Homo sapiens: one gene and its partners. The protein of the gene in region 6 purifies or fractionates together with the protein of the main gene of each other region. This does not show direct contact. Each region holds a gene or a part of one and is shown on either strand. Other genes may lie near its edges.

Region 1 (2,973 bases), on a different chromosome or scaffold from region 6:
TGCCTGCCCTGGGCTCCGGAACAGACGGCTGCAGGCCACCTCTCACTGCGGGGGTCTCTGGGTGGACAGAGCCCTCAGACTTTGCTTATTTAAATCCTTTTGTCCATAGAGCCAAGTCCCTCCTGCCCGCAGAGGCAACTGCCCTCCCCTTGCTGTGCGTCTTCTAGTGTGTGTGCGTGGGAAAGGTGCAGCACTTTCTGTGTACGCCTTCCGCGTATGGAAGTGGAGTTCTGTTTCAAGCCTCACTGACCTGCCACCGGCAGAACTCTCCTTTAGAACCCCTTCCTGTTGCCAAGTGCTCATCTGGGCTGTTGCTTTGTTTTCCGGGGGCCACCCGCATCCCCCCCGTCTCCCTGCTGCCACGCACAGCTAGTGGCTCCTGGAGACCTCGGGAGGAATTCCTTGTGCTAAACCCAGAGAGGAATTGCTGGGTCAGGCATCAGCCTCTGCACCGTTCACCCTGCCGGGCTCAGCTGCTCCTCAGCAGACAACCCACCACCAGCCATGTGGCCCCATCTCTCCCACCATGCACTAGGCTTTCTCCCACGCTTGCCAGTTTCACAGCACGAGCTGGCCGTGTGGAGCTTGGACTCGCCCTTCTCTGACTGTGGATTTGAGCTGTTGGAGTTTCTTCTCCCTTGAGTTGCCTGTTCAAATCCTTTGCCCATTTTTCTATTGTGGTTTTTGTATTTTTCTTTTTCTTCTTTTTTTTTTGAGATGGAGTCTCGCGCCATCGCCCAGGCTGGAGTGCAGTGGCGTGATCTCGGCTCACTGCAACCTTCGCCTCCTGGGTTCAAGCAATTCTCCTGCCTCAGCCTCCCGAGTAGCTGGGACTACAGGCACGTGCCACCATGCCTGGCTAATTTTTGGTATTTTTAGTAGAGACGGGGTTTCACCGCGTTAGCCAGGATGGTCTGGATCTCCTTGACCTTGTGATCCGCCCGCCTCGGCCTCCCAAAGTGCTGGGATTACAGGCGTGAGCCACCGCGCCCGGCCTGATTGTCTTTTTCTTAAGTTGCAGGAAGTCCACATATATTTTAGCTATTTAGCCTTTGTAACCTTTAAACACTGGGGATGCCTTCATGCTTTCTGGTGAGGGTCTGTTAACTTGGCGCGTGGAGTCCTTCACTGCACGGAAGAGCAGAGGTTTCCCTGTTCACCTGCTCTATGGTCTGTGCTTTGTGAAAACACCTTTCCCTGGCCCTGGGTCCTGCCTTCACGTTCCTGCCTTTTCTTCTATCAGCCTTCTAGTTTTGCTTTTCAGAATGGAATGTTTCCGTTTTGGAGTCAGGTAGGATCACACATGTCCAGTTTCTCTTTCTGTTCATGACGTATATGATGTGACATATTTTTCCACCAGATATTATGGGATAGAAGATGAAAAGCACACACTCCCAGGTCCACTTGACCTGTTGCAGTGGAACCTCCGGGCATGGGCCCAGGAGTCTGTATTTTTAGTAAAAGCCAGTGGAATCCCGTGGTCTTCAAGCTCTCCCCCCACCACCCCCATGTGCAGAAATGCCTGGGCACCCTTGGGGGGCTGCCGGCCAGCGTGGGTGAATGGCGCCCACCAGACGGAGCAGGGCCTGCTACTCTCCTGGGCCACCCCTCCTGCTGGACCTCGGGCCTGCCTCCCTGCCTTCCCTGCCCTTGGCACCTTGAGAGGAGAATTTGAGTACTAGAATTTGCATCTGGGAGTGTCCACCACGGGATCTTCCAGAAGCCCAGGGGTTCGGGCCCCACTCCTGGCATGAAGAAATAGCTTGGGCTGGTGTCAGGCCGACCCAGGTCCTGGCTGTGTGGCCTCGGGCGCGTCACTTAACCTCTCTGAGTGGCAGTCACACCATCCTGCGTGGGATTCAGACTTGAGCCTGTCCCAGGGCCCCTAGCGGGGTGGGCCTCCGGGGAGGGAGGGAGGGAGGGAGGGCGGGCGCTGGGGCGCGGCTCAACCCTTCAGTGCCCCGCAGGCGGCTGTGCGTGGCGAGCAGTGGACGCCCATCGAGCCCAAGCCCCGGGAGCGGCCGCAGATCGGAGGCACCATCAAGCAGCCGCCCAGCAACCCCCCGCCGCGGCCCCCGGCCGAGGCCCGCAAGAAGCCCAGCGAGGAGGAGGCTGCGGTGGCGGCGGGGGGACCCCCGGGAGGTCCCCAGGTCAACCCCATCCCGGTGACCGACGAGGTCGTGTGACCTCGCCCCGGACCTGCCCTCCCGCCAGGTGCACCCACCTGCAATAAATGCAGCGAAGCCGGGAGCGCGTGAGCCTCTGCCTGGGGCCGGTGGGCGGGGCTGGGGTAGCGATGGTTCCCGAGGCCTGGGCAGGCACCCCGTTTCCTGCCAGCCGGGCCGCATTCCAGTTTCATTAACATCAGCATCGCCTTCCTTCTCAGCAGCACACGAAATCCCGGGTACCGTATATTCCACGAAATATAGTACCTGGATTCCAGGTGTGTGCCTCCCTAGAAAGGTCCTCCCGGGCCTGGAGGAGGCAGCAGAGTCCTCCCTTGACAGCTCCTGCAGGCCCTGCAGGCCCTCCACACCTAACGCCTCCCTAAGGGGCTTGGATTCCAGAGGAGGCCGCTGGCGTTAAGTGAAAAGGGAACAGGGTCGGAGCCACGTGGTGAGCCTCTACCCTGCGCCTCTTTTCCGTAGAAGCTGGGGTGAAGCTGGTGGCGGATGTGGCCTTGTTTGCCCCCACACTGATGCTGGGGGGCCCCCCAGCTGCCCAGGACGCTCAGGCCAAGTTGCAGGGGCTTCTGGCCACCCCTTCCCCTCACTTGTGCGGAGGCTGTGGCTGGCTGCACACACACCTGCCCACAGGTCCTCACCACCACCCCAGCCCGGTGCCCCCAAAGCTTTGCCCGGCGTCAGCCACGTCCCCCACCTTTGGGCTCTCGCCAAGGCACCCACTCCCCTGAGGCCGGAGAAGCCCTTGCCTGCTGCTTGTCCACCTGCTCTCCCAGCAACTCACACTTCA
Region 2 (4,560 bases), on a different chromosome or scaffold from region 6:
ACGGGGGCCAGCACAGCAGCATCCACCCAGCCTGAGGCTCAAGCTGCCCTTACCACCCCATCCCCCACGCAGGACCAACTACCTCCGTCAGCAAGAACCCAAGCCCACATCCAAACCTGCCTGTCCCAAACCACTTACTTCCCTGTTCACCTCTGCCCCACCCCAGCCCAGAGGAGTTTGAGCCACCAACTTCAGTGCCTTTCTGTACCCCAAGCCAGCACAAGATTGGACCAATCCTTTTTGCACCAAAGTGCCGGACAACCTTTGTGGTGGGGGGGGGTCTTCACATTATCATAACCTCTCCTCTAAAGGGGAGGCATTAAAATTCACTGTGCCCAGCACATGGGTGGTACACTAATTATGACTTCCCCCAGCTCTGAGGTAGAAATGACGCCTTTATGCAAGTTGTAAGGAGTTGAACAGTAAAGAGGAAGTTTTGCACACCCAGTTCCATAACGTTGTTGGATGTATGAGCCAGGCAGGGGTCCAGAGACCACCAGCCTGCAATCCGGAGAACCCAAGCTAGGCGCGAGCCGGTGCTGTGATCCCGCCAAAGGAGAAGCTGCCTTCCCGGGGAAGGGGCAGAGAGGGGCCGGCGGGCTGAGGCCAACCAGCGCAGAAAGGGCCTGGCAGCCATTACTGTAGCGCTGGCGGCTCTGTCACGCCCCTGAAGCCGCTGGCCCGCGGGTGTGTTCAGCTCAGGAGCGGCCCTGCGTGTTTTTCCCCCGTGGCCGTCGCGGACCCCCGTCTTCCAACAGTGGTGCGGGCGGGGCGCCCCGTCCTGGGTTCGCGGCATAGCCCCGCCCGGGCCCCCACGCGGAACAGAAGTAACGGACCCTTTTTTTTTTGTTTTTGTTTTTGAAACGGAGTGTCGCTCTGTCGCCCAGGATAGAGTGCAGTGGCGCGATCTCGGCTCACTGCAACCTCCGCCTCCCGGGTTCAAGCGATTCTCCTGCCTCAGCCTCCCGAGTAGATGGAACTACAGGCACCCGCCACAATGCCCGGCTAATTTTTGTATTTTTAGTAAAGAGGGGGTTTCGCCATGTTGTCCAGGATGGTCTCGAACTCCTGACCTCGTGATCCGCCCGCCTCGGCCTCCCAAAGTGTTGGGATTACAGGCGTGAGCCACCGCGCCCGGCCCCGGACCCTTCTTTATTGGCCTCAAAACGGGTCATTTTGGGAAGCGGCGCGGGGCTGGCCGCGCTTCCCTGGGCCCCGGCCCTCCCCATGGTGTTTACGGGGAGGCGAACGGGGAGCCCAGAGGCTGCGAGCCTGGCCTGGACCCAGGAGCCAGGGGTATCCCACAAGTCCTGGAGGCTCTGAACGCGGCGCTGACGCCGAATACCTGTGAAAAAGACTCGGGGAGGAGACCCGCAGACCGCCGAGCTTCTGCCGCGGGAACCGCGCCCCCGGCCCCGCAATGCGCCTGCGCCTCGCGCGCCGACTTCCAGTCCCAGCAGGCCGCGGGCGGGGGCGGGGCCTCCGGGGAGAATTCGGGGGAGGGGCGGGGCCTCCGGGAAGCAATCAGGGCAGGGGCGGGGCGTCCGGGGAGTGGGGCGGGGCTCCCGGTTCCAGGCGAGTTCGCAGCTGCGCGCCGGGTCCTGGAGGCCGAGGCCGCTCCCGCCCGTTGTCCCCGCAGTCCCCGACGGGAGCGCCATGGCCCAGCCGCCGCCCGACGTGGAGGGGGACGACTGTCTCCCCGCGTACCGCCACCTCTTCTGCCCGGACCTGCTGCGGTGAGCGGGGCCTGGGAAGCGAGCGCAGCCTTGGTGCGGGGTCCGGTCCGCGGGCGCCGGCGCCCCCACGTGGTCCCCGAGGGCTCGCGTGTTAGGAAACCTGTCTTGCCTGGCTCCTTTCTTTCTTTTTTCTTTCTTTTTTTTTTTTTGAGACGGAATCTCGCTGTGTCGCCCAGGCTGGAGTGCAGTGGCACGATCTCCGCTCACTGCAAACTCTGCCTCCCGGGTTCAAGCGATTCTCCTGCCTCAGCCCGGCTAATTTTTATTTTTAGTAGAGAGGGGGTGTCACCGTGTTGGTCAGGCTCTTTTCGAACTCCTGACCTCAGGTGATCCACCCGCCTCGGCTTCCCAAAGTGCTGGGATTTACAGGCGTGAGCCACCGCGCCCGGCCCAACCTGGCCTCTTTCTTAACAGAAAATTTTAGGTTGAAATCATTTTTCCGGAAGACCCAGAAGGCCCAGGAATGCCAGGTTTTGCCCAGCAGCTCTTCATTTTCCTGCAAACGCCTTGGTGTTCACAAGAGAAGGCAGCCCGGGCAAAGGTCGATCCTCCCCGGTCACCTGCCCTCACTCGGCTAATGGGCGGATCCTTTTTTTTTTTTCCTTTTCTTTTTTTCAATTGGCAACATTTTCAAGTTTCTATTAAAATTTTGATCTTTTGCCAGGAGCAGTGGCTCACGCCTGTAATCCCAGCTCTTTGGGAGGCCGAAGCGGGTAGATCACCAGAGGTCAGGAGTTCGAGACCAGCCTGGCCAACATGGTGAAACCCCGTCTCTGCTAAAAATACAAAAAATTAGCCGGGTGTGGTGGCGCACACCTGTAATCCCAACTACTTGGGAGGCTGAGGCAGGAGAATCACTTGAACTCGGGAGGTGGAGGTTGCAGTGAGCCGAGATCGCACCATTGCACTGGGCAACAAGAGTGAAACTCCATCTCAAAAAAAGAAAACAAGTTTTAAATTATGTTCTCCAAGGACAGGTATTGACAATTCTCTCTGAGTGTTCTGCAGGAAAAAAAAAAAGTTTTTTTTCGAAACGGAGTCTCATTCTGGGTTGAAGCAATTCTCCTGCCTCAGCCTCCCAATTCTCCTGCTTCAGCCTCAGTGCGCCCAAGTGGGACTATAGGCACACAATACCACGCTGGGCTAATTGTATTTCTAGTAGAGGTGAGTGTCACCATGTTGGTCAGGCTGGTCTGGAACTCCTGACCTCAGATGATCCACCTGCCTCGGCCTCCCAAAGTGCTGGGATGACAGGAGTGAGACGCTGCACCTGGCCCAAAATTAATCTTTAATAATTAAGAATAGGAAAGGCAACTTGGAGATCAGCAAAAGTTTGCCATCCATCTGGTACAGTTTGTGCCAGTCATACCGATCAGTACACATTTAATGCGTACAAGAAAATCTCTAATAAATAAAAAAGCCATATTATCCCGACGTAGCTTGCTGAATCTCAGGTATCATATTTGATATTAGTGCCATGCAGGGCTTAGGAGAGAGGAAATTATAACCTCTATCTTGTTTAAGCCAGGGTATTTTTCTCTCTTGTATCTACTTCTGTCCATTTCTGTCAAAAGACACAGAAATACCCTTTCCCCCACTGCACTTTGCAAGTTTGTGTCAGCACAAGTTCAGGACCAGCCTGAGCAACAAAACGATACCCCTCTCTAGAAAAACTAGATGAAAAATTAGCTGGGCACTCTGGCATGCACCTGTAGTCCCAGCTACTGGGGAGGCTGAAGCAGGAGGATCCTTCTAGCCCAAGAGGTCAAGGCGGCAGTGAGCCGTGATGGTGCCACTGCACTCCAACCTGGATGACGTAGCAAGAACCTGTCTCAAAATAAATAAATAGGCCCGGTGTGGTGGCTCATGCCTGTAATCCCAGCACTTTGGGAGGCCGAGGTGGGTGGATCACAAGGTCAGGAGATCGAGACCATCCTGGCTAACACGGTGAAACCTCATCTCTACTAAAAATACAAAAAATTAGCTGGGCGTGGTGGCAGGTGCCTGTAGTCCCAGCTACTCTGGAGGCTGAGGCAGGAGAATGGTGTGAACCTGGGAGGAGGAGTTTGCAGTGAGCCTAGATCATGCCACTGCACTCCAGCCTGGGCGACAGAGCGAGACTCCATCTCAAAAAAAATAAAAAATAAATAAATAAATTAAATAAAATACTATAATTTTATGAATTTTCATTTTATTTATTTATTTATTTTTTAAGACCATGTTTCGCTCTTGTTGCCCAGGCTGGAGTGCAATGGCGCAATTTTGGCTCACCACAACCTCCGCCTCCTGGGTTCAAGTGATTCTCCTGCCTCAGCCTCCCAAGTAGCTGGGATTACAGGCATGCACCACCACACCCGGCTAATTTTTTATATTTTTAGTAGAGACGGGGTTTCTCCATGTTGGTCAGGCTGGTCTCGAACTCCCGACCTCAGGTGATCCGCCCGCCTTGGCCTCCTAAAGTGCTGTGATTAGAGGTGTGAGCCAAGGCACCTGGCCGAATTTTCATTTTAAATCATTGCCGTATAGCAATATGGGAGGTGTATTTTAACAGGGCTCTTTTATTTTTTATTTATTTTTATTTTATTTTATTTATACATATTTTTTGAGACGGAGTCTTGCTCTTTTGCCCAGGCTGGAGTGCAGTGGTGCGATCTCGGCTCACTGCAACATCTGCCTCCCGGGTTCAAGCTATTCTCCTGCCTCAGCCTCCCAAGTAGCTAGGACTACAGGCACCCACCACCACGCCCAGCTGATTTTTGTATTTTTAGTAGAGACGAGGTTTTACCATATTGTCCAAGCTGGTCTCGATCTCCTGACCTTGTGG
Region 3 (4,429 bases), on a different chromosome or scaffold from region 6:
TTTAGATTTTTATTTGAGACAGAGTCTCACTCTGTTGTCCAGGCTGGAGTGCAGTGGCATGATCTTGGTTCACCATACTCTTCGCCTCCCATGTTCAAGCGATTCTCCTGGCTCAGCCTCCTGCTGGGATTACAGGTATGCACCACCACACTTGGCCAATTTTTGTATTTTTAGTAGAGACAGGGTTTCACCATGTTGGTCAGGCTGGTCTTGAACTCCTCACTTCAAGTAACCCACCCACCTCGGCCTCCCAAAGTATTGGGATTACAGGCGTGAGCCACCACGCCCGGCCTCTATTATGTTTTAATATTTCGAAGGGGTAACTTCCCCTCATTGCTTTATTTTTTTATTTTTTGCTGCTTTTGTTTTTCCAAATAAACTTTATAATCAACTTGTTTAGGATCTCAACTTTATTTTCCAAACAGATGGTATTTTTTATTAGGATCGTATTAAAATTATAAATTAAAGGTAAGGTAAATTTACATTTTAAGTCATTTTTTATTGTGGTTAGATAAACATAAAATTTTTCACTTTAATCATTTTGAAGTATACAGTTTAGAAGCCATTTTTTAAAAATAATTTTTATTTTTTAGAGACAGGGTCTCTGTCATCTAGGCTGGAGTGCAGTGGTGTGATCATAGTTCACTGCAACTTCAAACTTGTGGGCTCGAGTGATCCTCCCACCTCAGCCTCCCAAATAGCTAGGACTACAGACATGTGCCACTACACCTGGCTGATTTTTTTTTTTTTAAGCTAGTCAAATTTAGCAGTGGGGACATTGTATACCAACTTTAGTGATGCCAGTGTTAAGTTCTGATAACTCATTACCATCAGACCAGCCTTGGCTAATTAAAAAAAATTTTTTTTGTAGAGACAGGTCTTCCTATGGTGCCTAGGCTGGTCTCAAACTGGTCTCAAGCAGTCCTTCTGCCTACACCTTCCAAAGTGCTGAGATTACAGGCATGAGCCACTGCACTCTGCTAGAAGTCATTTATTTTTAATCTTTCTAAGGTAATAGGTAAAAATGGTATCTCAGTGTTTTTTTTGTATTTTTTATTATTTATTTATTGAGACGGAGTTTTGCTCTTGTTGCCCAGGCTGGAGTGCAGTGGCACAATCTGGGCTCACTGCAACCTCCACCTCCCAGGTTCAAGCAATTCTCCTGCCTCAGCACCCCCAGTAGCTGGGATTATAGGTGCATGCCACCAAGCCTGGCTAATTTTTGTATTTTTAGTAGAGACAGGATTTCGCCATGCTGGCCAGGCTGCTTATCTCATTGTTTTAACTTGAATGTCTTTCCTTACTAAAGAAATTGAATACCTTTCCCATATGTTTCTGTTTTTTTTTTTTGAGATGGAGTCTCGCTTTGTCTCCCAAGCTGGAGTGCAGTGTGCAGTCTTGGCTCACTGCAGCCTCTACCTCCTGGGTTCAAGGATTTTCCTGCCTCAGCCTCCTGAATAGCTGGGATTACAAGCACTTGCCACCATGCCCAGCTAATTTTTGTATTGTTAGTAGAGATGGGAGTTTCACCATGTTGGCCAGGCTGGTCTCGAACTCCTAACCTCAAATGACCCACCTGCCTCAGCCTCCCAAAGTGCTGGGATTACAGGCATGAGCCAATGCGCCTGGCCGTCCGATATGTTTTTTAACCACTGGTTTTATTTCTCTGGTGATTTGCTGTTTTAATCCTGGGCACTTAGCCTGATAGAATTTCCCATGTTTGAATATTTTATGTTAGATATACTGGAGTGCTTGTTAATAGAGAGTTTTGTTTGATAATCTGCTATCTGAATCAACTTTTGTAGTACAATATTAGTAAGGATCTTTAAGTAATATTAACTACTTTATTGTGGAACTGAGGTAGGGCCACTTAAACCCTAAAGCAGATTTCCTGCCTGGAGAGGCAGTGCATTCTAATGGTCAGTAGCAGGGACATTGAAGTCAAAATATGTAAAGTCCTTAAAACAGAGCTTAGAATATAATAAGCACTGTATTTATGGTTTGATTTTGTTGTCTTGAGCTGATACAGTAAGAAGAAAAATGGAAGAATTAGTGGGATAGATTGATTCTTTTATAAAATTTAAAAGTATTGATCCTCTCTCTTTTTTTCCCATTTAGGTGTGAAATGTTTCTCTTATTCTACGAGTCTGATTGGCCTTACATTTCTGCCATACATTTTTACACAAAATAATGCTATTTCTGAAAGTGTGCCTCTGCCTATTCAAATCATATTCTATGGCATCATGGGAAGCTTTACGGTGATCACCCCAGTGCTGCTTCACTTTATTACAAAAGGCTATGTCATTCGATTGTACCATGAGGCCACAACAGACACTTATAAAGCCATTACCTACAATGCTATGCTTGCAGAAACGAGTACAGTGTTTCACCAGAATGATGTGAAGATTCCAGATGCTAAACATGTATTTACCACATTTTATGCTAAAACAAAATCACTGTTAGTTAATCCAGTGCTCTTTCCAAACCGTGAAGACTATATCCATCTAATGGGTTATGACAAAGAAGAATTTATTTTGTATATGGAAGAAACCAGTGAAGAGAAACGGCATAAAGATGACAAATGAGCCTATTTGTTAGTGTTCGTGCTCAAATGTGATTTACGTTTTAATGTATAATAATAAAATTGCCTTTTGCATTCCGTTAGTGACTGATTGTTAAAAATAATTTGAAATTATCAAAGCTTTTAATTTCCAGAGAATGATGTTTGTTTATAATAAAACAAGCTATGTTTGAAAACCAAAATGTAGTATCTACCATTCGTGTTTTAGAAAGGTATGTGAATAAATATGTTCATGCTAGTATAAGAGTTCTGTGTTACTGTGGTTGACTCTAAACTGGGGATCTGATGTCAGTAGCAAATGGGAGAGTTGCTTTATTCTTTGTGTATGGATTTTTCTAAGTGTATAAATATTTTCCGACATTAAAAGACATTTTCTCTTTGAGGAAGACACAGTCATAGGTGGTGCGGAGCTGTGGTCCACCTGCTCCTGCTCCTGACTCACTGCTCTTTGCTGTTGCCTGAGGACCAAGTCTGTCAGGAAGCTGGCTAGGAAGCCTTGCAGCAGCCATGGCTTTTAAACATACCAGAAAAACACCCGTGGAGTCAGAGGTGGCAATTCACCGAATTCATATCACTCTAACGAGTTGCAACGTAAAATCCCTGGATAAGGTGTGTGCTGACTTGATCTGAGGAGCAAAGGAAAAGAATCAGTGAAAGGACCAGTTTGAATGCCTACCAAGACTTTGAGAATCACTACAAGAAAAACTTACGGTGAAGGTTCTAAGGCATGGGATCGTTTCCAGATGAGAATCCACAAGCGACTCATTGACTTGCGCAGTCCTCAGATAGTTAAGCAGATTACTTCCATCAGTATTGAGCCAGGAGTTGAGATGGAAGTCACCATTGCAAATGCTTAAGTCAACTGTTTTCATAAATTGATTACCAGTTGTTAAAAAATTTTCAAAAAACCGCAAAATTTCAAGAAATTCACAAATTATGGGAGCAGTTTTAAGTCTTCTTTGGTTCAGAACACAGGTTTTTGCCTAACCCCTGGCATGATTGCCCATAAGAACATACATGTACAGTTGAACTGGTGGTTAGCTATACGGGAAATGGTAAGTAGTGTTGTCTTCAGTATCTTAATTTGTTTCTGCAACTGTGCACTCCTCCCTTGGTGGCACCCTATGGGTGTAGGAAAACCACTGTTATTAAACAGGTGAAAAATACCTTGTGTAAAATTGCTGTCTCTATGCTAGCTTTGTCAAGAATATCCATTGTAAGATTTTTACCTCTATTGTAAAGTGGAGATTGACTCTTGCCAAGGATTTTTAGCCAGGAACAAGAGGCCTCAAACCACACTATTTAGATCAGTAGATATTTACTAAGTGCCCAGTACTGTGCTAGTTACTAAGATCACAGTTAAGAATGAAACACCCCGTCTGTCTTTATGGAGCTACCTAACATTGTCTATGGCCACCATGATAGTAAATTTAAACTTTATGGCGTACATGTGTATGAGGGAGGTTGATGGGGAAGCAGCAGGAACATCTGTTCAAAGAGATCATTCAACTCCCAGGCTGCTCGAAACTTATTCATAGGAGATAAGACAGAAAAGCTGTCTTTCTGAGACGTAGAGCCTGCCCTCTGCTTGGATTGTCCAGCTCACCAGACTGAGAATTCCCACCGCCATTCCTCTGTGCCATCTTCTGCTCAAGGTGGGTTTTTGCCTGCTTGCTTCTCTGTCCTTTGTCCCCTAGATGTATCCTAGCAATGAATGAGAGATGTGTTTCTATTTTTTTCATAGCAACCTACTAGATAAGGGAAGCTTGTCCAGCCTGCAGCCCAGGACGGCTTTGAATGTGGCCCAACACAAATTCGTAAACTTAAATTTTATTTTTGAGATTTTTT
Region 4 (4,530 bases), on a different chromosome or scaffold from region 6:
TCGACTGTTGGGCCATTCATTTGCTCATTTGTTTATGTGACAAGGATGAGGACCTACTTGGTGCAGAGAAGACAGGCCCAGTAAGAGGAGGGCTGGCTTGAAACAACTGCAGGTCCTTGAGAGACCAGAGGTGCTCGGGAGGTGGTGAGGAGCAGGTTGGGAGCCTTGTTGCAGGAGATGAGTGAGCCAGGGGAAGGCAGAGCGGCAGTGTCAGTGAGGCACACAGGGGAGGAGCAGACTCTCCCATCCCCTGCCGTGGCCCTTCAGTGGCCTCCTATCGCTGGGGAGAAAATCCACACTCATACCCAAGGATGGCCTGGCCGGCTTCATCTCCTCCTAGTTGCTGGGTGTGCCACCCGCCAACTCCTGCAGTTCCAGGAATGGGCAGGGCTCCCTCCCTACCAGCTCCTCAGGCACATTTTGTGGGCAGGGTTTATGGGAAAATGTCGGGGAGGAGGGCAGGGGGTTACTACAGGCTACTGTATCTGTCCCAAATCAGGGTCAGGTTCTACCTGAAGATAGTAGTGTTAGCTCTGAGTTCATTCCAGACCCGTTTATTTGATTCTAGAAACAGTTCCTATCAAAACCTGCTCTTTTTTTTTTTTTTGAGACTGAGTCTTGCTCTGTCGCCCAGGCTGGGGTGCAGCGGCGCGATCTCGGCTCTCTGCAACCTCCGCTTCCTGGGTTCAAGCGATTCTCCTGCCTCAGCCTCCCGAGTAGCTGGAACTACAGGAGGCACCACCCCGGGCCAATTTTTGTATTTTTTAGTAGAGACCGGGTTTCGCCATGTTGGCCACACTGGTCTCGAACTCCTGACCTCAGGTGATCCACCCGCCTCGGCCTCCCAAAGTGCTGGAAGTACAGGCAAAAACTGCTTTTGAAACGCGTCCTAGCGTTTCTGGACAGCACCGGCCAGGAAGTCAGGAGGCTTGGTGCTGCTCCTGCGCCTGCCCTCGCCCCAAGTCCTGGGCTTCGGGATCCCCATGGCAACCCCAGGTCCCGCTGGCTGTGAGGCTGCGGCCGGAACCCGGTCTTCCCGGCTAGGAGCCCGCGGGGGGCGACCCCCTGCAGGGCTTGGCCTGCTGCGGGAGGAGGGCTCGGGGAAGGGTGCGAGCCGAGCCCGAGGCGCACGGCGAGTCCTGTGGGAGTGGGGGACGCGGGGGCGGCCCTGGCTCCGCCGCGGCACCTGGACCTCTACTTTCCGAGGTGAGCATTTGGGGGTCGAGGGCGTAGAGCGATCGCACCCTGAATGGAGCCCAGGGCAGCCAGCGACCTGTCCCGTGGCCCGCAGTCGTTACCGTTCCGGGGCGGCCGCCTAGGCGGGTCCCGACGCGGCCCGCGGGAGCTCGGGGTGCCCTCGCCCGCCGCTGCCATCTTGCCGCCGAGGGTTCTCTTAGCGACCAGCAACGCCCGCTTCCATTGGTCTTTGTCGCAAGGGGGGGTGTGGCCACGGGCCTAGTCCCTGAGCCCGCGCAATCTCTGGAGCGAAGCTAGCCGGGCCCGGAGCCAGAGGACGCAGCTGCGCCTGTGCGCGTTTCCGCCGCTGTCGTCTCTTCCGCCGGGAGGCCCGCCCGCCAACGGCCTGCGCGTCTGCGCCGGAAGCGGAAATGGTTGGAGCCCTTGGCCCCGCCCTCGCGCCATCTTGGGGGCCCTGGAGGCGGCGCCGCGGAGGACGGAGCGGAAGTGCTCGCTGCAGCTTCCCGGAGCCGGAGCGCAGCGCCTGCGGCCGCCCGTGCCCCGCCGTCCTCCTTCCCGCGGCCGTGAGGGAGACCGCGGCTCGGCCGTAGCGGAGCTGCGAGGTGCCAGGAAGGGCTGCGTGGCGCGGGAACGGCCGGGCAGCGCCGCCTCCGCTTCTTCCGGGCTGTCAAGGCCGCGGGCGGGCGGGGCCGCGCTGAGGGCCGGGCGGGGAGGGCCGTCGGGGCCCGGGTGGCCGCGGGGACCGTGTTCCCGACCCGCGGCCCTGAGGGGTACGGGTCGCGCCTCGGGGTCGGGCCCGGGACGGGGTGCTGGGGGGTGCGGCGGAGCCCTGGGGCCTGCGAGGGTCGGGGGAGCGGGAGAGGGGCCGGGCGGGGGCTGCAGCCCTCGAGCCACCCGGGCCGCATCTCGTCCGCATCCCCTGCTTGGCATCTGGGGGAAGCGGGCAGTCGCGGCCCCCACAGCGCTGCGAGTTGGGCTGTATTCCAGAGTAATGTGCCCTGTCCCCATCCTGCGTCCAGGTCAGCGCTTATCTGTAGGATTTAGTGTTAAGCTCTGGGGTGAAGGCGTTACTGACGGGCTGAAGGGAAACTAGTTACATCGGTTTTGATCGTATTCTAAATAGGCAATAAAATCATAAATTCTCCAGGCTGACTTAGTACTGGTCTGTGGCCCCACTGATAAAGGTATCGTTCGTTTCTCTGCCAGGTGTCTCACAGCACAGAGGGCTGCTTTCAGCCTAAGTACCTTCAGTGGGCTTTTGCCCTTTTCCCTTTATGAAGAGTAGAGACTGGCCGCTAGTCCTGGAAGCACTTTATTTTTAGTTGAGTTGACATTTCCCAGGAAGATGCAGTTATCCCCGTAAGTGGATAAAGGGTTCTCAGTAATTCAGACTCTCACATGGCTTCTGCCGTATGCCTGAGGTGACGGCGACGGCGGTAACAGTGTGTCAGAGCCAGGTGGAGATATAAGATGGTCAGGCCCAGAGGAGCGGGGAGCCCAGGCTGGAATGTGGCCTTGGGAAGGAGGAAGAGACGGGGTCTGGGAGGGCATTTCAGAGGACTGAACAACACCAGAGGCGTGAAGCTTGGTGCACGGCAGCCGGGGGCTTTCTTAGTCCCGGAGGAATTGGGGATGGGGACGTGAAGAGAAAGGTGGGAGCCAGACTGTCAATGCTCCCGGACGCCAGGCAGAGGACTTCATCCTTTCCACGTGCAGAGTGATGGACCACAGATGTGGATGAATGTGACGGGCCTGGAACAAGGCACATAGAGAGTCTTACACTTTCTGGCACGTCCTCATGGTCTCTGCTTGGACTGGTTTTATCTCCCTTTCTGTTTTGTTTGTGACCAGGCATAAAGCAGTCACCTTCAACAGGTAATTGATGGGCTGTCTACTATGTAATGGACTTCCAGGTGGCAGGGCCCAGCCCCGAACCAGACAAGGGACCCCTCAAGGAGCTTCATTCTAGCAGGAGAAAATTGAGAAGTAAACCAGAAAGGTATCAGGAAACAGTTGTACACAAAATAAAAATAGGGTGATGTGATGTAAGGGACTGGGGGTCAGTGTGGGCGGTAACGGAGGCCTGTGAAGAGGAGGTGGGCTTCAAACTGAGCAGAGAAGAGGACTGCAGAGGGGGCAGCTGGTGTGAGGGCTGGCCCTGATCCAGGAACAGGGCTGGCACTGCCTTGCCCGGCTCCAAGGGTGCTCCACGGGCTGCCCACTGATTCCTCACGAGAGCCTTGTGGAGAAGGCATGAGAGGTGCTGTTGTCCCATTTCACAGACTGGAACCTGAGGCATCCTGGAATAGCCTGTCCTAGTCACACTGGCAGAGAGTGGTAGAGCCAGGATCTGAAAGCAGGCTGTTGGAGTCCAAAGTTCACGTTCTTGCTCCTGCCGCCCTGCCTCAGGCTATTCCTGGCAATGCGTTCAGTCAGGGTGCAAGCTGTGTTTGGTATACGTGTGTGTTTGGTATACGTGTTGTGTGTGTCAGACAAGCAGGATTGGCTGATGGCGTTTTGAGTAGGTTTTCTACATGTTCAGTTGGAGAGTGAGAAGTTCTGAGCTTTGCCTAGAGAACACCCTTTGGCGGGAGAGCTGGGTATTTTCTCCCTGACATTACTCTCATCACCTCCAGTCCAGTAAAAGTGCTTTAATGGGAAACAGTCTGAGTAAAACGGGGAAACTTACAAGGAGCTATAGGACGAACAATGTGACGGGTGGCTTTCAGATGGCCTGGCTTTGGCCTAAATAGGGTGGCCATTCCAGGTGACACATTTTAGTGTAGCCTCTATTTAAATATGGAGTTCTTTCAGTGGAGAGTAAAGGTGCTCCTCCTCTGTGTCTGGTTTACACGGCTCCGCGAGACCAAAGGGCCCCTCGGTCTCCTTGAGCAGCCTGGCACTCTGCACAGAGGATCCAGGAACGGTGTCATGGAGCCACATTCTGCACAGACTTGATGATGTGGAGGGAGCTGCCTGGATCACTTCAGCGCATCAGTTGTGATGGGAGAGCCAAGGCACTTGAGGGCGGGATTGCGTCTGGCCACCTGTTGCCTTCCACCTGAAGGGAAGATTTCCCCAGTGCTCACAGTGAGGATGGGACTGGAAAAGCGTTGGTTTCAGGAAGGTGCAGGTTCTGGCTCCTGCCCACTGCGAACATGCTGATGGGCCAGGGCAACTCTTTAGTCTTTGTGAGCTTCAGTTTTCTTATCTGTAAATGAGAACAATAAGACTGACCCCAACTGTTGCTGAGGAATGATGTCTTTGCTTTCATGTCTGGTATTTCTTAGAGCCTCATTTTACAGATGAGGAAACTGAGGCTGGCTGCGTGCT
Region 5 (3,833 bases), on a different chromosome or scaffold from region 6:
CTATGGCCCAGTCGAATTAATACCCTTTTTCTCACTGAGAGAGGAACACGTACTGCCTGTCATAACAGCATTGTAATGCCAGTGTCTCAGTAACAGAATCCTGGTGGGTGTTAATTGGGTGTTTTTTGCCCTGGAGAATTCAGATTCCTTTCTATACCTCCGATTCTGCCCAGAAGAGGGGGGGAATCACCAGTGTTACAAAATTAGAAGATTGTTTTGCCTGTTTTAGACTGAATATTTGAACACTGCAGCATTACTAGCCACCAGTGTTAAAGGACAGATGAGGGGAAACATTTGTTTTTAGCAGTAATTCCATGCCTCATCTTTTTTAAGTGATTTGTTCCAAATGAAGCCATTTATTGACTTGATGTTCACAAATATCATTTGAAGAAATAACAGGAATTGGGGTTAGATGATAAATTCTAGGGAATCTAGGTGATTTGGAGGATTTCATTTGTTTTGCATTACAGCTAGTTGCTCTCACTAAAGGTAAATTTCCGGTGAAATAACTCAGGTTTAACTAGCTGTGTGCCCAGAATCACTGTTCCTTCATACATGTGTCCTCTCCTTAAATTCATTACTTTCAAATGATGTTCAAAGCATTGACTATTTTCATTCAAAGAAACTACATTCGGCCGGGCACGGTGGCTCACGCCTATAATCCCAGCACTTTGGGAGGCCGAGGCGGGTGGATTACCTAAGGTCAGGAGTTCAAGACCAGCCTGGCCAGCATAGTGAAACCCCATCTCTACTAAAAATACAAAAATTAGCCAGGCGCAGTGGCACACCCCTGTAATCCCAGCTACTCGGGAGGCTGAGGGAGGAGAATTGCTTGAGCCCGGGAGACAGAGGTTGCAGTGAGTCAAGATCATGCCACTGCACTCCAGCCTGGCCAACAGAGCGAGACTGTCCCCCCCCCAAAAAAAAAAGAGAGAGACTGCATTCAAAGAGGACCAAGACTACAGTGAAATTAAAACTGTTTGCTGGCTGGGCATGGTGGCTCACACCTGTAATCCCAGCACTTTGGGAGGCCGAGGCGGTTGGATCACCTGAGGTCAGAAGTTCGAGATCAGCCTGACCGACATAGTGGAACCCTGTCTTTACTAAAAATACAAAAATTAGCTGGGCATGGTGGCGGCACCTGTAATGCCAGCTCCTCCAGAGGCTGAGGCAGGAGAATTGCTTGAACCCAGTAGGTGGAGGTTGCAGTGAGCCACAGTTGCGCCATTGCACTCCAGCCTGGGCAATGAGTGAAACTCTGTCTCAAATAAAAAAATAAAAATAAAAACTATTTGTTGACTTTTGTTTTTCATTTAGTTTTGGAAAAGACTATTTGCAAAAGTACAGAGTTATCTTCAGCAATTACTTCACAACTTAGATTGGTACCAAGAGTGACAGGAGATCTTGTCTTGGAAGATCATTATTAGATGCCAACAAGGAGACCCACTGTGATTTCTGGTAACCTATTTGGGGAAAAAGACCTAATGACCTAATATGCAATTTCTGTCCTCGTGTCTTTTTCTCTAACACACAGTCATGGGTGAAACATTTCAGACACCTCAGGCAGCACTTATGGTTTCTAATTGTGAGAACTACCCTTCCATCAAACAAAAAGGGCAAGGGTGGGAGCCCCGGCTACTTGGTTAAACATTTTTTACTACAAATTCGCCCAGAAAAGGTGAAATATTTTGTTATAAAACTGTATTAAGCATGGCCTAAGTATTTATTAGGTATATGATCTGTGTAGTATGTTCCATCAGAAATATTTCTTACTAGTGCTTTAAGCTCCAGAGTAAACAGTCATTTAAAATGGAGTTCACTGGGCAGGTTTCCCCTTTAATCTAGATAGAAATACTCTTTATCAGAGATTTAAGGCACTGTTTTGCTAACTGGTAAATAAAACCAAATGTAAATATGTAAGAATGTTTATTTGTTGCACATAACTTTTTTGGTATAAAATAAATGTAGAAGTTACCTGTGGAAGTTGTGCTCCCATTATTCTTAAACTGCAGGGTTGCATTCCAAAAGAACTGAAACGAAGTCTTTTTAGACTCAGTAGGAGCCTTATATTCTTGAAGTCAATACTGTAACCTCATTTCTAAGGTATACAGGGTTGATTCTTTTTCTCTTAAATCATATGTAACTTGCAGAAGATTCAGAGTCCTCAGACCTCTAGTTCTTGGAATTCCTGTAGGTTTACGGTGTATGTGATTGTCAAGAATTAATGACAAAAATGTGTCACTGCCTACAGTTCTGTGAACACTCAGAATGTATTAATGAGCTGTTTTTCCATAGTTTTACTTTAGCTTACCTTGAATACTCCCTGTATAATCCTCTAAAAAGGTAGCATCGGCAAGAAAGATGAATCCGTTGGAAATACAGCTGAGCCATACTTCACGGAATAGAACAAGTGTGTTCTGTGCTGGAGCTCAAGACCTGTGGAAAGGGACTGCCCCCACTGGGTGCAATGGCTCATGCCTGTAATCCCAGCACTTTGGGAGGTAGAGGCGGGTGGATCACTTGAGGTCAGGAGTTCAAGACCAGCCTGGCCAACATGGTGAAACCTGCCTCTACTGAAAAATACAGAAAAATTAGCCAGGATTGTGGTGTGCGCCTGTAATCCCAGCTATTCAGGAAGCTGAGGCAGGAGAATTGCTTGAACCAGGGAGGCGGAGGTTGCAGTGAGACGAGATCACGCCACTGCACTGCAGCCTAGGCGACAGAGGAAGACTCCAGCTCAAGAAAAAAAACAATGGACTGCCCCTAATTTGTAAACCATTTAAATGTGTCTATTACATTTAACTTTTCTTAATGTTTGTCAACTAAAAGTTTTATTCATTATACTTTGACATACTGGAACACAAAACTTGATTCCTTTGAAAAACTAAAGAGAAGTTGATAAAAAAAATACAGAAGCTCTAGATTCCTAATTGGAACTGACTACACTCATTTTTAAAAAATGGACGATGCCTAATAAAACCACATGAAATTAACTTTATTCTTTCTTTCATGGAGCTTGCACAGGAAAGCTAAAAAGGAGGGTCTGTGTGGAGACACGGGGCTCAACCACAAGAGAGGGGAAAATCAAGTTCTATAGCAAGAACCATATTGGAGGCCGGGCACAGTGGCTCACGCCTATAATCCCAGCACCTGGGGAGGCTGAGGCGAGCAGATCACCTGAGGTCAAGAGTTCGAAACCAGCCTGGCCAACATGGTGAAACCCCATCTCTACTAAAAATATTTTTAAAAATTTAGCTGGGAATGGTGGCAGATGCCTGTAGTTCCACCTACTTGGGAGGATGAGGCAGGAGAATTGCTTGAACCCCAGAGGTGGAGGTTGCAGTGAGCCAAGATTGCGCCACTGCACTCCAGCCTGGGCGACGGAGCAAGACTGTCTCAAAACAAACAAAACAAACTGTATTGGTTCATTGTCTTTCAACTGACTGGACACCAAAAGGAGTATTTTTCCAAAGCGTATACTTCAAATCAGAATTGATGCACCATCCTTGCCTTACTGGAGCCCAGGAAGAGAGGGAGGACAGATTCCTTAAGGAAAGACTGTGCTCTGGGAGGGGGCAGGTAGCGTCATTTTGGGGTGTAAAGGCATGGAATGCTGATTTGTAGGCAAAGTTGTTTAAGGAGGTCCTGTCACATTCAGTGGCATCCGTTATGATAAAGCCAATAGGCTTTTACACTCATCTGTCCATTTCTGTCAAGACCCTATGGCTGAGGTCAAAACAATGTTCTGGGAGAACCAGTTACCTCTAACCTTCCAATTCAGACACTGCCAGCTTAACTATGTAGAAACTGGCACACAGACCCTGTTAAGTGCT
Region 6 (4,386 bases):
GGTGAGCAGCTAATGGGGCATCCCGGCTGGAGGTGAGGCCACGCCAGAGGAGGTGAGGGGCTGGGAAGATGCAGGAACACAGAGGGGCCAGGGAGGAATTGGGGTCCTGTCTGGGTAGGGGCCGAGTGTGTAGCCAGTGCCTCTCAAGAGCAGGGCTTGGGGGCTCGGCCACAACCCAGCGCTATTCCCTCCCCAGCCCTCCTGCCTGTTCACACCTGCGCTGGGGCCAGGTCTTCTCCACCCTTGATGCACCCCTGGGCAGGTCCCGGGCCTCACTGGCTCACCCCTGACAACACAGGGTGCCCTGTGACTGCAGCCATGAAGCCATCTCCAAGTGGCAGTGGGTGTGTGGGGTAAGGAGTGATCACACCCGGGTGCGGTTCTGCACAGGCTGTGGGCTTGTTTTAGTTTTTGCGAGGAGGGCCCCTCTGTTCTCCCTCTGCTTCCGCACTAGCCCCATGGTGGTGGCTTCCGACCTTCCCAGGGCTGGAGGAAGGAGCGGGAGGAGGAAGGCAAGGGGCGGGGGCAGCCTCTGCTGACCAGCACTGGAGGGCCCAGGTTGTGGCCCCCACTCTGCCTGTCAAGGGGTGGCACAGATGTCCAAGCCGACTCCCCCCAGGGTGCATGGCTGGGGACACTGGGGGACACTCCCCAAGGCACAGGGAATGTGGCACCGGCCGGCTGCGTAGCTTCCTTCTCTCAGCCCTGGAAGTCCTCCCAGCCTTTCATGTTTCCCACTGGGGTCACCTGAGCCTCCCAGGAGGACCTAAGGAAGATTTCTAACCTCTCTGGATGCTCTCTCAGGTGTGCCCACGCCTGCTGGTGAGAAGCCAGCTCTGCTCTGTGATTCTGTCTCTGTCTCTCAATGTGCCCGTGTCTTTCTGTCTGTCTGTCAGTCTGTCTCTATTTCCTGCCTCAGAATGACAACACAGCTCTCCACATCAGTTTTCTCAGGCGTGTATGGGTCACCTGACCACTCTGCCCCTTCCGAATTCCAGGTCCCCCATCATAAACCTCTCTCTGTGTGGCCTCCTGGCAGCTCTGGTCACCAGGCTTCAGGGGGGACAGCAAGGGGGTCTCAGCCTATCACTAACTCCCTCAAAGACACCATCTCACTGCTTTTCATACCTCGGAGCCACTAAATTGGTCCATGCTCGCCTTTTTCTCGAGAGCAGCACCTGGGGTGCAGCGCCCGCTGTGAGCGGAGAACTGGCCTCCTACTGTTCAGTGTGTTGTTGGGAACTGAGAAATGGACAGAATGGAGGAAGAATCCACAGCAGTGTGGTTTCCCCTCCTGCAGCAAGAGCGAAGCCCTGGGGAGCCATTGGGTTTTCCAGATCTTCTCTGCTTTGGCCCCACCCACCTGGCGTCTGGATCTTTGCCCAAGGTCACCTTCTCCGAGGGCCTTCCCGGGTGCCTCAGCCACACTCATCCCTCCTGTGAATCTCACTTTTGTTGTCTTTCTTCAGTGCGACATCGTCTTGGCTGGCTCCTGAGCTAGAATGCCGGCCTCCTGAGGGCAAAGGCTTTGGTCTGCTTTGTCTACTACACGTTGCACAGCAGGTGTTTGGGAACCTAAATGCACGATCCATTGTCTGGACCCTGGGAGGACTGTGAGAGCTGGGGTTGTGGAGGGCGGCCTGCGTCTGGAGTCCTGGCCCCCTAGCTTCCTGGCCACCTGCTCTTCACCTGCTCTTCACGCCTCAGCAATGTCTATTGATGGCCATATCTCATGGTCAATCAGCCATGTAGTAGGTTTATGTCAGCAGCTGTGCTGAGGGACAGGGTGGGAAGGGGAAGATGCTCGATGGTTGCCAGGGAGCTTAAGCCAGGCCCTTCAGGCTTAGGACTGCCTCAGCTCCCTCCAGGGTATCTTGCCTTAAAAACCCTTGGCGGCTCTCGACTAGAGATCCCCAAGGTTGGTCCTACGCCTTATCTTTTTGGTGTCCTAACAACTGGCTCTGTACTGGGTGCATTTCCAGGTGCTCAGTATCTGTGTGCAGAATGAATGAAGAAAGAGTTGAATGACACCAGACCCCATTTTGGGCACAGACACCCCAACACCCTCCTGTCTCATTTAAACAGTTTTTGTTGTTGTTGTTTTGAGGCGGAGTCTCACTCTGTTGCATAGGCTGGAGTGCAGTGGCGTGATCTCGGCTCACCGCTACCTCCGCCTCCCAGGTTCAAGCGACTCTCCTGCCTCAGCCTCCCAAGTAGCTGAGATTACAGGTGTGAATCACCACGCTCAGCTAATTTTTGTATTTTTGGTAGAGACAGGATTTTACCATGTTGGCTAGGCTGGTCTTGAACTCCTGACCTCAGGTGATCTGCCCACCTTGGCCTCCCAGAGTGCTGTGATTACAGGCGTGATCCACCACGCCTGGGCTTTAAACAGTTCTTAAAGCCTCACCTTCCTCCAGAAAAGTTAATGGTGCTCACAAGAATCAAACCAGGGACAAAGTGGATTGATGGGGCGATCAAGGCCTCCCTGAACCATAATTCCTAGAGTTACCGTCCGGGTACTGAGCAGAGATGGGAGGGAAAGGAAGGTGGGAGAGGAAGGTGGCAGTTTGGGGACACCTGCCACGTGCCAGGAGCCAATCTCCCTGATGATCAGATAATTACACCCCTGCCCTCTAAGGAGAATGGGCTTTAGCCCCTTTGCAGAAGCAGGTGAATGGGTGGAGAAAGATCAAACCCGAGAAGCGGAGAGGGGAGCTGGGGCACCTAACTGGAAAGTCTGAATCAGTGAACAGAATTAGAGAACGGGTGCAGAGGACCTCGAATGACAGAAAAGCTGTGAGGTTTCTCAGGGTGGCTGGTCTTCAAGACTTTCTCTGGCAGCTATGGGTTGTGCAAGAATTGGGTAGCGTCACTTTTGGGAAGAGCTGTTTTGAATCGGCTTCCCCTTTTCACATTCTTCGAAAAATGCAAATAAAGGATGGAGGTTGGTTTTCTGGGGGACTTTCGGCTTCTGTGCTGGGTCTCAATGTGGCTCCAGCATATAGAAGACGATGCCTCACTTCCTATCGTGGGCCACCTGCGTGGTAGGCAGTGGCCTTTCCCTCTCCACTTTACAGATGGAGAAGCCGAGACTCAGGCAAGCTGGCGAGCCCTGCCAAGATCACCGGGCTAGTTAAGCCGAAGAATCAAGATTCAAGTTCTCATGTTTGTCTGTCTGCAAAGCCAGTATGCTTTTCCTAACAAGACACCAGACTCTCTAATCTGCTGGTTTGATCAGTAAACCACTGTGACTCCATTTCCTTCCCCCCAGGCCCCATGAAGACTTTCCCCTCTCCTCATCCCCACTCTGACTCCACAGACTGAAAAGAGTTCACTGGTTCTTTGAAGTGGCATCTGAGCCATTTTTATTGTGAGCTCTGTCTCCCTGGCAGGTTAATCCACACCAGTGTGTCCATCTCAAACCCGGAGTCCCCAGAGTCAAGGGGCCGCTGATACGTACGTCTCCCCGTGCAATGCCTCACTTCCAAAGGAGAAGCCAGGCCAGGACTGGGCCCCTTTCTACTTCGTTTCTGTCCTTTTCTGGGCTTTCCCTCAGAGGCAGAAACTGGGCATAATATTCGTGAGTGGGGATGTCAGATCAGGGGTAGAGGGCCAGAGAGATGGAGAAGGGAAGGAAAAATGATGACGAGCAGATCCCAGGAGGGACACAAGCAGCTGGGGGTGGAGATGGCCAGTGGCCGTGGTGGGGGCAGGGGGAGGTGTGCATGTCAGGGCAGGTATTTAGATGGATTTCTGGGTAGCAAGGAGAGTGGAAGAGAACAGGGGCAGGAGTTTTGGAGGTTTGGGGTTACCCTCACCAAAAAGACTGGCTCTGAGCCAGGCACAAGGTTCTCCGCAGTGAGTGTGTGTGTGTGTGTGTGCGTGTGTGTGTGTGTGTGCGCACATGCGCGCAGGAGGAAGCCATGTGGCGGTGTCTGGGGAAACTCGGGGACTTCCCTGGCCCCCGCTGCCCCCAGTGCCTCTGCTGCAGCCCATCCAGTGTCAATGTTTGAGGATCACATAGTCCACATTTTCTTGTGCCTGAGGCCGCTCCCCGACCCCAAACTGGATCAGCTCTGAGTAATGAATCCCCTCATCTTCTGGAAAATCTGGAATGACGTTCTCATAGTCGCCCTGAGAAAACCGCATGGTGGTTAGCCTGGCCCCACTGTCGCCAGCCTCCACCGCCGCTTTTCTCCGCATTCTCTCCTTCATTCCACCCGGGGGTCCAAAAGCCCAGGCGGGTGTCCTCGTGTCAGGAAACTGGCTGTGGCCGGCATCCAGGACCTGGAGGTACCTGCCTGGCTCTGGCCAGCTCTGCCGGAGCAACCGTCTCCAACACCCAACCTCTGCCACCACGGATGCCTACCCAACTCCTTCCTA
Region 7 (3,840 bases), on a different chromosome or scaffold from region 6:
CTAGCAAAGTTTTGAAGTCTTACAACGCACAACATGATGTATTTCCCTGCCATGAGGAACTGGGGCGGAAGGGAGCCTCAACTGGGTTCCAAGGTCAAAGTCAAAACTGATTGCAAGACATGTAAGATCCTACAGACTCTGGCCCCGCCTAGTTGTCAACACCATCTGCCATTCATCAGTGGTTATCACTCGCCCCTTACAAACCTTACATGTCATTCATTTAGAACACAATCTGTAGTTCTTCAAAGAGCCCTACTGTTCCCTGACTCCACTTCTTTATATAGAATATTCCTTCTGCCAAGAATGCCCTTCTCTTAGTCTGGCTAAAGAGCTCCTACTTGCTCTTCCAGGACCAGCTCAAGCTACTAAGCTTTGATTGTCCCTTCCATCTCCTAGCAGAGGACTGCCCCCACCTTTCTCCCACCTCTGCAGGTATCAGAGCACTTTTCCAACAACGTTGAACTTATAGACTAAAAACCTTAAAGGCTGGGAACCAGGCAAGCATCCAGCAGTGCAGCTGAATAAAGGAGACAGGGCAAGACTGGGTGAAGGAGGGGTGGAATCCCTCTTCTTTTTGTGGGCAAAATTTGACAACAAAGTAATTTTGTCTTTGGCATGCTCCCGCATCTCATCCCTATTCCCCTTTCCCAGCTCTCCCAATATCCTGTGTTCCCAGGTCCCTTAGTGACCTCATGGAACTCTACACAACCTCCACCACAGCACTATGTTCTTCAGATCAACCCTTCCTCTTCCTCTTAATCAGGATCCTTCTGTTCAGAAGTTAACACATAAATTAGTGACAGCTTCTCATAGCTGTTAACCTAAGATGAATCACTAAGAAACAAAATTTTAAAAGAAGTATGGAGAGGATATGGGGAGTGGACACTCTATCGCACAGAAAGACTGGCCCAGAAGCATCTAGGAGTCTCTTCCTGACTGGGCCCCCCAGAAGTGTTTCCACCTCACTTCATCCACTCCTACAGATTAGCTGCAGTGAGTGCTACAGGTAGAGACAGAGCTGGGGCAGACACTACCATCCTACAGATCATCCATTCTTCTTGGGTTGAATACCTCTGTGTCTTTGTTTTAGTTTGAGACCACTTATGGTTAATTCTTCAGCAGACAGAAAGTTCTCACCAACATGTTCACCAATGAACTTAAAACAGTGTCTTCACTCTAGCCAAGCAGTTCCCTGAAATCTAACCCCAAACTACTGCTTGACTAGAAAAAGGTAAATTAAATCAGAAAACCAAGATGTTGTCAAGTATCCTAATTTTTCAGATAAATCTGTAAATATTAAATTAGCATTCTAGCAATAATCATTCTGGTTTATTGCCAATTTGATTTCATAAAAACTCATTTGTTAGAATGGTATTGCCTACCATGTGCCAACTAGTGGTCTAAATGCTGGAGGTTACAAGATTAAATTTCTAACCTTAAGGAACCACATCTAGTAGGCTAGACAAATAAGTAAGCAAACAAATATCAAACAAAATGGTGACCAATGGCACCAGGGAGAAAGAGAGAACCAAGAACAGAAAAGACTTCAAAAAAGAACTATCTCTTGATCTAAGACCAGAAGGATGTAAACTTGATCAAGCAAACAAGCAGTAAGAGGAAAAATGTTAGGGAGAAAATAGAGAGATGAAACCCAAGCAGGGGAACTGCCACATGCAGAGGTACTATAGTGAGAGATCCTAAAAAATGCCAGGAAAACAAGTTATTTAAACTGACTGGTGCACGGGGTGATAGCCTTTGAGGAATAATTACAAATGGAGGTTTAGAAGGATAGGACAGGATCAGATTATAAGGAAGGGTCTTGTTAGACATGATAAACAATACAGATTATCTTGTAGGTGATGGAGATTCTGAACTTTTGTCACCTGAAAGAGATCCTAGGCCAGGCCAAGGAGCCATATTCCTGAAGAATACAACGTGAATGGTATCCTCTGGACTTGTGCAATGCAACAGCACAGTGTTTACCTGCTGGACTGTGTATGTGTAAGAGAGAAGAACTCATTCATCGATGTCTCCCCAGCATCCAGCCCTGTGTTTGGCATGTACAGGAACTAAAACACTATTAAATAGTTAGAAGTACCAACACAGTCCTAAAGGCATAACCAAGAGGCCCTAACCAAGCCCCCTTCCTTGCTACCTATAAAATCACAACTCTTATACACTACAATAACTTATCATTGCCACAACTATTAAGGGAACATGAAGAATAGTGAGTCACTATGGGCCGCACCAGAGATTAGAAAGGATTGGGGCGGGGGGTACTCTTTAAGATGCTTCTGAATCTGACTAAATTAATGAGCTTATTCTATTCTCTTCATCAAACACTGAACAGAAAACCATGGGTTAGCTTAAAATTATTCTTCAACTAACTCTAAGGCAGTGCTGACAATTATGAAAAGTACATTTTCATATCAAAAAGACCCATTAAATATTTCAATTAAGCGTGTGCTAGGTTAGTCTAGTCTTTCAAGTAAGTGCTACAGACAAAATTATGTCATTTGCCTATTGTACTTTACATTTTACTTAGTATACTAATCTACTTATTATAATTAGCATTAAATAGGTTTCTATCTTTTGTGCTTAGGAAAATTAGAAACATAAACATTAAAAAAAGGAGAAACAAGGAAACTACAGATGAAAATTGTAAATGAGCTTAGAAAACTGGTGACTTAAGAAGCTAAGGCATGATCTAGAGATGAATGAAAAATCTTTGGTCTAAAAAAATAAAGTAAAATAAAATAAAATTTAAAAAAAAGAAAAATCTTCGGTCTATAAGGAACCAGTGACTAGGATTCCATGTTTAAAGAAATCTAAAGGTCACAAAATTGAAATATAATTCAAAGTCTTCTTTAAAAAAAAAGTAGAAATATTTGACTAATCAGAATTTTTAAATGAAAATAATGCATATAAAGTCCTATAAAATAAATACAATTACAGATAGTTTTAAATTTTATAAGGTGGTCAGAGACAGAGACATTGGGTAACAGTAACAAGATGGGAGAGAAAACAGACTGCAAACACACCAGAGACACAAAGAGAAAAACTAAAATATACATAAAATGTATATCGGAGATACATGAGGTTAACATCTTGAGCTTTTGAGGATGTTGCTACTAAAGATACAAAATCATAGATTGTTTTGGACATAAAAAGCCTGAATATAACATTATTGCCTGCTGTTCCAGTTAACAAAAAAACAAAGAGCAATCATCAATCACACCCCACACACACATCTGACTTGTTTTGAATATCTTCAATGTTACTAAGTTAACAAATAATAAGTTACCCTTCACTCAGACTCTTATCCTTACAATTCTCTAAGGTACCCTTTATCACCTCTATCTGGCAAATAAAAAAGCTCTCAGAGGTTCAGTGACTTACTTAACCCAGACTACAAGACTGGTATGTGACAGAGCTGTAATTCAAAATCACTATGGCTCTGAAGCCCACATTTTTATCCAATACACCATGCCCTCTCCCAGGACATAAGACTGTTAAGTTTTTAGCCACCATCATGTTTTTACATACTCATGTTTTCTTACTGTGCTATCCCCAGAGTAATACTTAAGTTTAGATACTTTAAATTTCATGGAATCCATTAATAATTTACATCGCTCTTTTAAAACAATGCAGATCTTGCTAGCAGTAAGGAATAAATTTATTCTTTAAAAAAACAAAACAAAAACACTCAAAGTAGTTGAGTATCCCCTCAGAATGACAGACAGTACCAATAATCTCCTAATATTCTCAACTTTATTACCTAGCCTTTTAATTATACTAGATCTTTTTGTGGCATAACCTTACGGAGATAGCAGATGTTCA

Evidence for each region.
Region 1: the proteins of FFAR1 (region 6) and CYBA purify together in Homo sapiens (affinity purification with mass spectrometry; one large-scale study listed by BioGRID and IntAct). This does not show direct contact.
Region 2: the proteins of FFAR1 (region 6) and DECR2 purify together in Homo sapiens (affinity purification with mass spectrometry; one large-scale study listed by BioGRID and IntAct). This does not show direct contact.
Region 3: the proteins of FFAR1 (region 6) and TMEM70 purify together in Homo sapiens (affinity purification with mass spectrometry; one large-scale study listed by BioGRID and IntAct). This does not show direct contact.
Region 4: the proteins of FFAR1 (region 6) and RER1 purify together in Homo sapiens (affinity purification with mass spectrometry; one large-scale study listed by BioGRID and IntAct). This does not show direct contact.
Region 5: the proteins of FFAR1 (region 6) and VKORC1L1 purify together in Homo sapiens (affinity purification with mass spectrometry; one large-scale study listed by BioGRID and IntAct). This does not show direct contact.
Region 7: the proteins of FFAR1 (region 6) and ATP13A3 purify together in Homo sapiens (affinity purification with mass spectrometry; one large-scale study listed by BioGRID and IntAct). This does not show direct contact.

The regions. Positions count from the first base shown.
Region 1 is NC_000016.10:88,642,566-88,645,538, reverse strand, and holds the end of CYBA (cytochrome b-245 light chain), read left to right. Parts: intron 1-109; coding exon of another isoform or gene 110-373; exon of another isoform or gene 374-1,967; coding exon 1,968-2,186; 3' UTR 2,187-2,250; downstream 2,251-2,973. UniProt on the Homo sapiens protein: Subunit of NADPH oxidase complexes that is required for the NADPH oxidase activity that generates, in various cell types, superoxide from molecular oxygen utilizing NADPH as an electron donor.
Region 2 is NC_000016.10:400,308-404,867, forward strand, and holds the start of DECR2 (peroxisomal 2,4-dienoyl-CoA reductase [(3E)-enoyl-CoA-producing]), read left to right. Parts: upstream 1-1,577; 5' UTR 1,578-1,656; coding exon 1,657-1,736; intron 1,737-4,560. Other genes in the region: NME4 (nucleoside diphosphate kinase, mitochondrial isoform a precursor), read left to right, coding at 1-35.
Region 3 is NC_000008.11:73,979,037-73,983,465, forward strand, and holds the end of TMEM70 (transmembrane protein 70, mitochondrial), read left to right. Parts: intron 1-42; exon of another isoform or gene 43-135; intron 136-2,118; coding exon 2,119-2,585; 3' UTR 2,586-3,747; downstream 3,748-4,429. UniProt on the Homo sapiens protein: Scaffold protein that participates in the c-ring assembly of mitochondrial ATP synthase (F(1)F(0) ATP synthase or complex V) by facilitating the membrane insertion and oligomer formation of the subunit c/ATP5MC1 through its interaction.
Region 4 is NC_000001.11:2,390,160-2,394,689, forward strand, and holds the start of RER1 (protein RER1), read left to right. Parts: upstream 1-1,681; 5' UTR 1,682-1,799; intron 1,800-4,530. Other genes in the region: MORN1 (MORN repeat-containing protein 1), read right to left, coding at 1,299-1,374. UniProt on the Homo sapiens protein: Involved in the retrieval of endoplasmic reticulum membrane proteins from the early Golgi compartment.
Region 5 is NC_000007.14:65,956,566-65,960,398, forward strand, and holds the end of VKORC1L1 (vitamin K epoxide reductase complex subunit 1-like protein 1), read left to right. Parts: 3' UTR 1-2,993; downstream 2,994-3,833. UniProt on the Homo sapiens protein: Involved in vitamin K metabolism. Can reduce inactive vitamin K 2,3-epoxide to active vitamin K, and may contribute to vitamin K-mediated protection against oxidative stress.
Region 6 is NC_000019.10:35,346,317-35,350,702, reverse strand, and holds the start of FFAR1 (free fatty acid receptor 1), read right to left. Parts: upstream 2,802-4,386; 5' UTR 1-2,801. Other genes in the region: B-cell receptor CD22 isoform 1 precursor, read right to left, coding at 4,006-4,137.
Region 7 is NC_000003.12:194,476,830-194,480,669, forward strand, and holds part of ATP13A3 (polyamine-transporting ATPase 13A3), read right to left. Parts: intron 1-3,840. UniProt on the Homo sapiens protein: ATP-driven pump involved in endocytosis-dependent polyamine transport. Uses ATP as an energy source to transfer polyamine precursor putrescine from the endosomal compartment to the cytosol.